2 separate regions of the Homo sapiens genome follow, and region 2 is linked to region 1. The links come from fine-mapping of genetic effects on gene expression. A gene starts in region 1. The other region holds a variant in brackets. All regions are shown on one strand. Distances are from middle to middle.

Evidence for each region. PIP is the estimated chance that this variant, and not a neighbour inherited with it, causes the effect.
Region 2: its variant is fine-mapped to the expression of FRMD1 in lung (TOPMed, PIP above 0.99).

Annotation. Positions count from the first base shown.
Region 1 is chr6:168,077,433-168,080,329 of GRCh38, forward strand. It overlaps FRMD1 (FERM domain containing 1), which reads right to left and starts at 1,780. Exons shown (of 11, transcript NM_024919.6): 1 at 1,450-1,780. The coding sequence starts at 1,662. RefSeq lists an enhancer at 771-1,492.
Region 2 is chr6:168,049,083-168,051,979 of GRCh38, forward strand. No RefSeq gene overlaps it. Among named protein-coding and RNA genes, the nearest start is that of FRMD1, 29 kb to the right of the region's middle. The variant A/G (reference allele first, on the strand shown) is at 1,739.

The DNA of each region.
Region 1 (2,897 bases):
TCCTGTCCAACTGCAGACACAGATGTGCACACACCCTGTGGGGGGGTTCCTGTCTAACTGCAGACATAGATGACTGCACAACCCAGTGAGGGGTTCCTGTCCAACTGCAGACACAGATGTGCGCACACCCCGATAGGAAGTGGCTCTGTGGTTGCCAACTTGCCAGGCCCAGCAGGGGCCACAGGAGTTGCAGAGGCACTTCAGGGAGCTCCGTCAAAAGCAGATGAGCACGATTCACCTGTTCAGAACAGGCGGTTCACTATGTTCTAGCTGCATGATCCCTCAGTTAAAATCTTACCGTGAAGTTCCGTGCAAGAAACCTAAAAGTTCCAGCTCTTATGGGGTAGGGGGCCAAAGCCCCAGCATCTTCCCCACAACAGGTCCTCTTATGACCCCTCCCCCAGCCCGAGGCACTGCTGGGGACCCCAGGAAACTACAGGACATCCCCCATTAGCTCAACTCCAGCTTCTCGTTGCTGGGTGGGGACACAGAGTCTTGGGGAAGATTTTGCCACAAACATAGATGTGGGCGTTTACGTAAACACAGAACTCTATCCCGAAGCAGACAAGAGACTCCCAGATTCCCAGGGGACTTGAACCAGGATATTACTAGCAAGTCATACTCCATTCCAGGTAGCAATGATACATTAGCTATGCAGAAAGTCATCGTTCTTCAACAAACCACTCTCATTTTAATTGCCACATTTTCATTATCCACATTAATCATTAAAATGAAAGTACCATCTCAACTCCTGTCGCCATGAACTCAACTAAAACAGGTAGACAAAATGGGGGAAAGGGAAAAGAAAAGGAAATAGAGAAGCATAGAGATGGTGACGTCTGAACACAAGACAGGAGCTGCTCCTTGGAAACCGGCTTCCTGGCGCTCTTCCCTCAGCGCTCCCTCCCGGGAAGGATGTGCTGAACCATAAACTTATTTCTCACAGCAACGTCTATCAGGGATGTTTCCTTCACAGGCCCAGTGAAAGGGCTGGCCCTTGACACCTCACAGACACCTGGCCTAAGCAGAGTGAGGCGGTCCAGGGACTTTCCATACACAGGCTGTGTCCTGAGGCTCTGCTCACCCCATACCCCTGCTCACCCCCACGGCCCTGCTCACCCCCACGGCTCTGCTCACCCTCACAGCCCTGCTCACCCCCACGGCTCTGCTCACCCTCACGGCCCTGCTCACCCCCACAGCCTTGCTCACCCCCACGGCCACCCAGGGCCCTGCTCACCCCCATGGCTCTGCTCACCCCCACAGCCCTGCTCACCCCTATGGCCACCCAGGGCCCTCCTCACCCCCATGGCTCTGTTTACTCCCAAGGCCATCCAGGGCCCTGCTCACCCCCACGGCCACCCAGGGCCCTGCTCACCCCCACGGCCACCCGGAGCCCTGCTCACCCCCACAGCTCTGTTTACCCCCACGGCCACCCAGGGCCCTGCTCACCCCCACGGCCAGCCGCAGTTGCTCCCGGCTGGGCAGCAGCACGAGGACATCCCTGTGTTCCGAGGCCATCGCGTCCATTCCCAGGGTCGGCTCCTGCTGACTGCATGCAGGCCTCTCAGGACTGGGTTCCATACATCGCGCCCCTGAAGGAGGGAACGTGTCAGGGTTTGTCCGGGCGGGGTCTATGCCCCTCCCTCTCGGGGGCACCGCCATGCTGTCGTTACTCGGCCCTCCCCCGCCATGGGTCGCAGGTGGGTGCTCAGCACCTCCCAGATCACAGCTGTGCTTTCCGGGACCCGCCCTTGCCGAGCTTCTCACTGGGAAGGGAATTGAGAGGGAAGCCTGGGCTGGGAATCCAGCATGGCCAAGCCAGGACAAGGGTCAGAGCTGCAAATAGCTGGGTGTGTGGAGGGCGCCAGGAATGCAAATAAACAACCTCAGGCTGGGCACCCGCCATGCAGCACTCCCATGCAGGGTAGCTCAGCAGCCAGCCTCGGTGTGGGCCCCGTGAGAACCAGGCTGGGGGAGACAGGACCCAACTCCTCCACCTGACAACCCCTATCTCCTCAGGGTGCCTGCTCCTTCTTCTATAATGTGGAGAGGGCTATGCAAACCCCATGGGCACAGATGCCAGAGCCAGGGCTGCTGGGGAAGATGGAGCAGCAGCAGGGCAGGACGAGGAGGGCGGGAGGAAGGCAGCCTGGGTGGGCACCCTGCCCCACACACCTCCTGTGGCATCTGTTATCGACCTCAGGAAGCAGCACAGCTGCCGTTCCTGGACAGGTTCTGCCAGGAGGGACCCTGGCTCCCTTTAGGGGCTGGAAACTGAGGACACTTCCTTCCTTGTCCAGGGCCAGCAAATCCCTTCCTGCCTGCAGCAGCTGGAAGGCCAGGAAGGGGGTCCTGGCTTGCGTGGACAGCAGCCGGGTGCATCAGCACGAGGGGTGGGGACATCTCCCGCAGGGCCTGGAACCCCTGAGGCCGCTCAGCAGAGATGAGCAACGCCTTCGAGCTCTTTGGCACAGTGTTAGGTGGGGAAGGGACCCCAGGATCCTGCCTGGCCCTGGGACCACCCAGACCTTTGGGCGCTGCAGGTCAGGAGAGGCAGTTCCCACGGGCCTGGGCTGTGGAATTCTGTCCTCAGCCGTGAGCTCCATCAGTTTCCTGCCATGGAGTCTGGGATGCTCTGGGACCTTCCTCTAGTAAGGGGTCTGGACCTCCGGACGGGCCGTTGTTCATCTTAGGAAATTCGCACTCCAGCCGCCTTAAGGCCTGGCCCGGTGGGTTTAGGAAATTCGCACTCCAGCCGCCCTAAGGCCCGGCCCGGTGGGTTGAGAAGATTTAGGAGGCTTAGGCCTCACCTCCCCCGGACCCTGGACTGACACTGGCTCCCTCCCTCCCTCCCTCCGCTCAGATCCAGACCCTTCCCAGACCCTCGAGGCCACACA
Region 2 (2,897 bases), 28 kb before region 1:
GGGAGAGGGAGGGACGGACCCAGGAAACATACAGAAAAAAAACCCAAAACTAGTCAGTGACTAAAACTCAAAGACGTCCCATCAATTAACAGCTCTGCTCTGGGGTTACTATCTTCATGTTCATTAGCTTCTTCCTCTTGGCTCAGGGCCTCTGAAGGTGTTTAGGATCAACCCATTTGAAAAGCAAGGACGCTGAGGCTGTGGAAGTCCACGTACTTACTGACTCGCAGCGCCTGTGAGTGGGCGGGAAGGAGCGTCTGCCCCTCAGTCGTGGTCCGGCTCCTTCTCTCACAGACGTGGACCTTTGGAGGGCAGTCCCAGCGCCACGGAGAAATGCATCTCCAGAAACACTCGTGGCTTCCTCAAACTGAGCACAACCAGACCTCCCCAGCGCTGACCTACGGCACAATTGTTCATGCACGAGAGCCGCCTTATGGGGTGAGTGCGTGACTCTGGTGCGAGGTTTATGTTCCCAGGGCTGACATGTCTGGGAGCTTCACAGCTGGACGAGGCATATTTGGAGGGGCGCCTTGAACCTGGACAGCACCCCCTCCTTGCCTCCCTCAGGCCGTTTGGCCACAGAACCTGTGACATGGGCAGGCTCAGGAGAGGAGAGGAGGAAGGGAAGGAGCCCAGGCCCCGAGGAGGGAAGATTGCCGGGGGCCAGGGTGGGGGTGGGGTGGGGTGGGGGCCCAGGGCCCAGGGCTGGGGCAGCTCTGGGTGCCAAATGCGGTTTCGTCCAGAGGACACTGCAAGGCTGGAATGAAACACCCTGTCCTCTTCAGCTTGTAGCGGGTCAGAGGCCGCTGGTTTTGAAGAGATTTGCCAGTGATCTGTGGGAGGAAACACTCAGCAGAGGTTTAGGTGGCACGTGGAGACTGTGCGGGGAATACAGCCCAAATGGGGAGGACAGAAGACACCACAGCCACCCAGGGTGTGAGAGCTGCGACAGGCGCCTGTTAGAGCGGAACCACAGGGGCCCGGCCCCATCTCGGGGTCCGGGGTGGCTTCCCTGCGGGGGCGGCCTCTGTGCAGAGGCCTGAAGGGTCCACAGTGGCAAAGGGGGAATGACAAAGTGTCTGCCTGTGCCGGACCGAGTGATCTGTACTATAATTACCCTGTGAGGGGCGCACGCTGCCGTCCTAGAGCGTCACAGACACCAGCCCCCGGGCCTGTTGGTACTCGCCGGAGGTCCCTGCGTGCCCAGAGTCCCGCCCTGGCCATCGTTTAGTGTGAGGCAGGAGGGGGCCAGATATGGGGGGGACGCCTGGCTCCCCCAGATCTCTCTTGCCTGCTCTTTCCTCCGCAGGCTGCCTGTGCCCCTCCCCCGTAGCCAGGAACAGGCCCTGGGGAGTGGTGGGAGGCCGTGCAGTGAGGCTTGCGGCCCTGGATGCTCCCTCAGGACTGTCTGGGACCAGGCTCGTCTCACAATCCGAATTAACTGCAGACCTCACTTCGAGAACAGCCTGGCCCAGCCCTGATACTCGGGGAAAGAGCAGCGGTCGGAGGAGGCAGGAGGAGCGCACGGAGGGCAAGCCGGGGGCCCATGTGTGGCTGGGGCAGCCGTGGCCTCCTCAGCACAGTGTGAGCCCAGCAGCCTTGCCGTGGCCAAGGCCCTGGGCCTGGGAACTTGTAATCCAGTCGCTGACTTTGCTTAGTTAGCAGAAATGGAAGACACCTCATTTGTGGAGACCGAGGTGGTGGAATGTTGACCCTGGGGGTGTTGCTGTGGGAGGCC[A/G]GTGAGCTGTTAGCCCAGTGGGCAGGACCTGGGTGACCGACGCCCTGGGGGTCTCATAACTCCCTGGACCTTCTCCTTTCTTGGTGGAGCTTGGCCAAAACCCACGGATATTTTACATCTGTTTCCCTGAAGTGCTAGGGACGTTCTGTAGTTTCAGCCATGCTCCTCGGGCAAGCCCCGGGATGGGGTGGGGGGGGCCAGAACAATGTGGGGTGGGCGTGGCCGGACGCCAGCTGCCCCTCAGCAGGGGCTTCAGCTCCATCACAGCCATGTGGACTGTGGCTCAGCCTGGGTGGACAAGGAGGTGTATACAGTTAGCACAGCCAGAGCAAGCCAGCCCTGCCCACTGAGGTGCACAGAGCACCAATCCGCTGGCCCTCCCTCCCTCTTTCACCTGTTCTGTGCCCATTTATTGGCTGCCTCCTGTACCGGGGTCTTGCTTTGGCACCGAGGAAACTGCAGTCAAGGCCGGAGGCTCCTGCCTTGAAGATCCCAAGACCGGGATGGAGACTGATGAGCCGGATGTGTCCCAGCGTGTAATGCAGGGTGGGCTGAGTGCGCCCCCCGACGTCTGTGTGGGAATCCTCACCAGCAAGGCCATGGTGTTAGGAGGGGGTGCCTGTGGGAGCCGGTGAGGTTGTGAGGATGGAGGCTCACGGGTGGGATTAGTGCCTTTGTAAGGGGGGCCCTGGGAGCTCGCAAGCCCCTTCCGCCCTGAGAAGACGTAGCGGCCAGGGAGGGGGCCTGGACCAGGAATGGAACTGGCCGGCACCTCGATCCTGGACTTCCAGCCTCCAGAATCATGAGGAGTGGGCAGAGTGAGGCCACACGGCCTATGAAGATCTGTTGTAGTGACCAGAGGGAAGACACAGTGCAGTGGACACGCCGGGGCTGGTGTGTGTCCTGCAGCCTCTCTGGGAGCCCAGGGCACCTGCTCCCAGGAATCACATGTGAGAAGCAAAACACAAGGACAGGCTGCGGGGAGGCGGCCCCGGACCCCCACTGGATGCCTCACTTCACACACCTGCCACCGAGGGGGACAGTGCCGGCCTCCCAGACCTGCACCCCAGCCCACAGGTGGGCACTCCACCCATGCACTGTCAGGGCTGCCAAAGCCTCATGCCCTCCCACCACCTTCTGCTGGGCAGCCCCTTCCTCA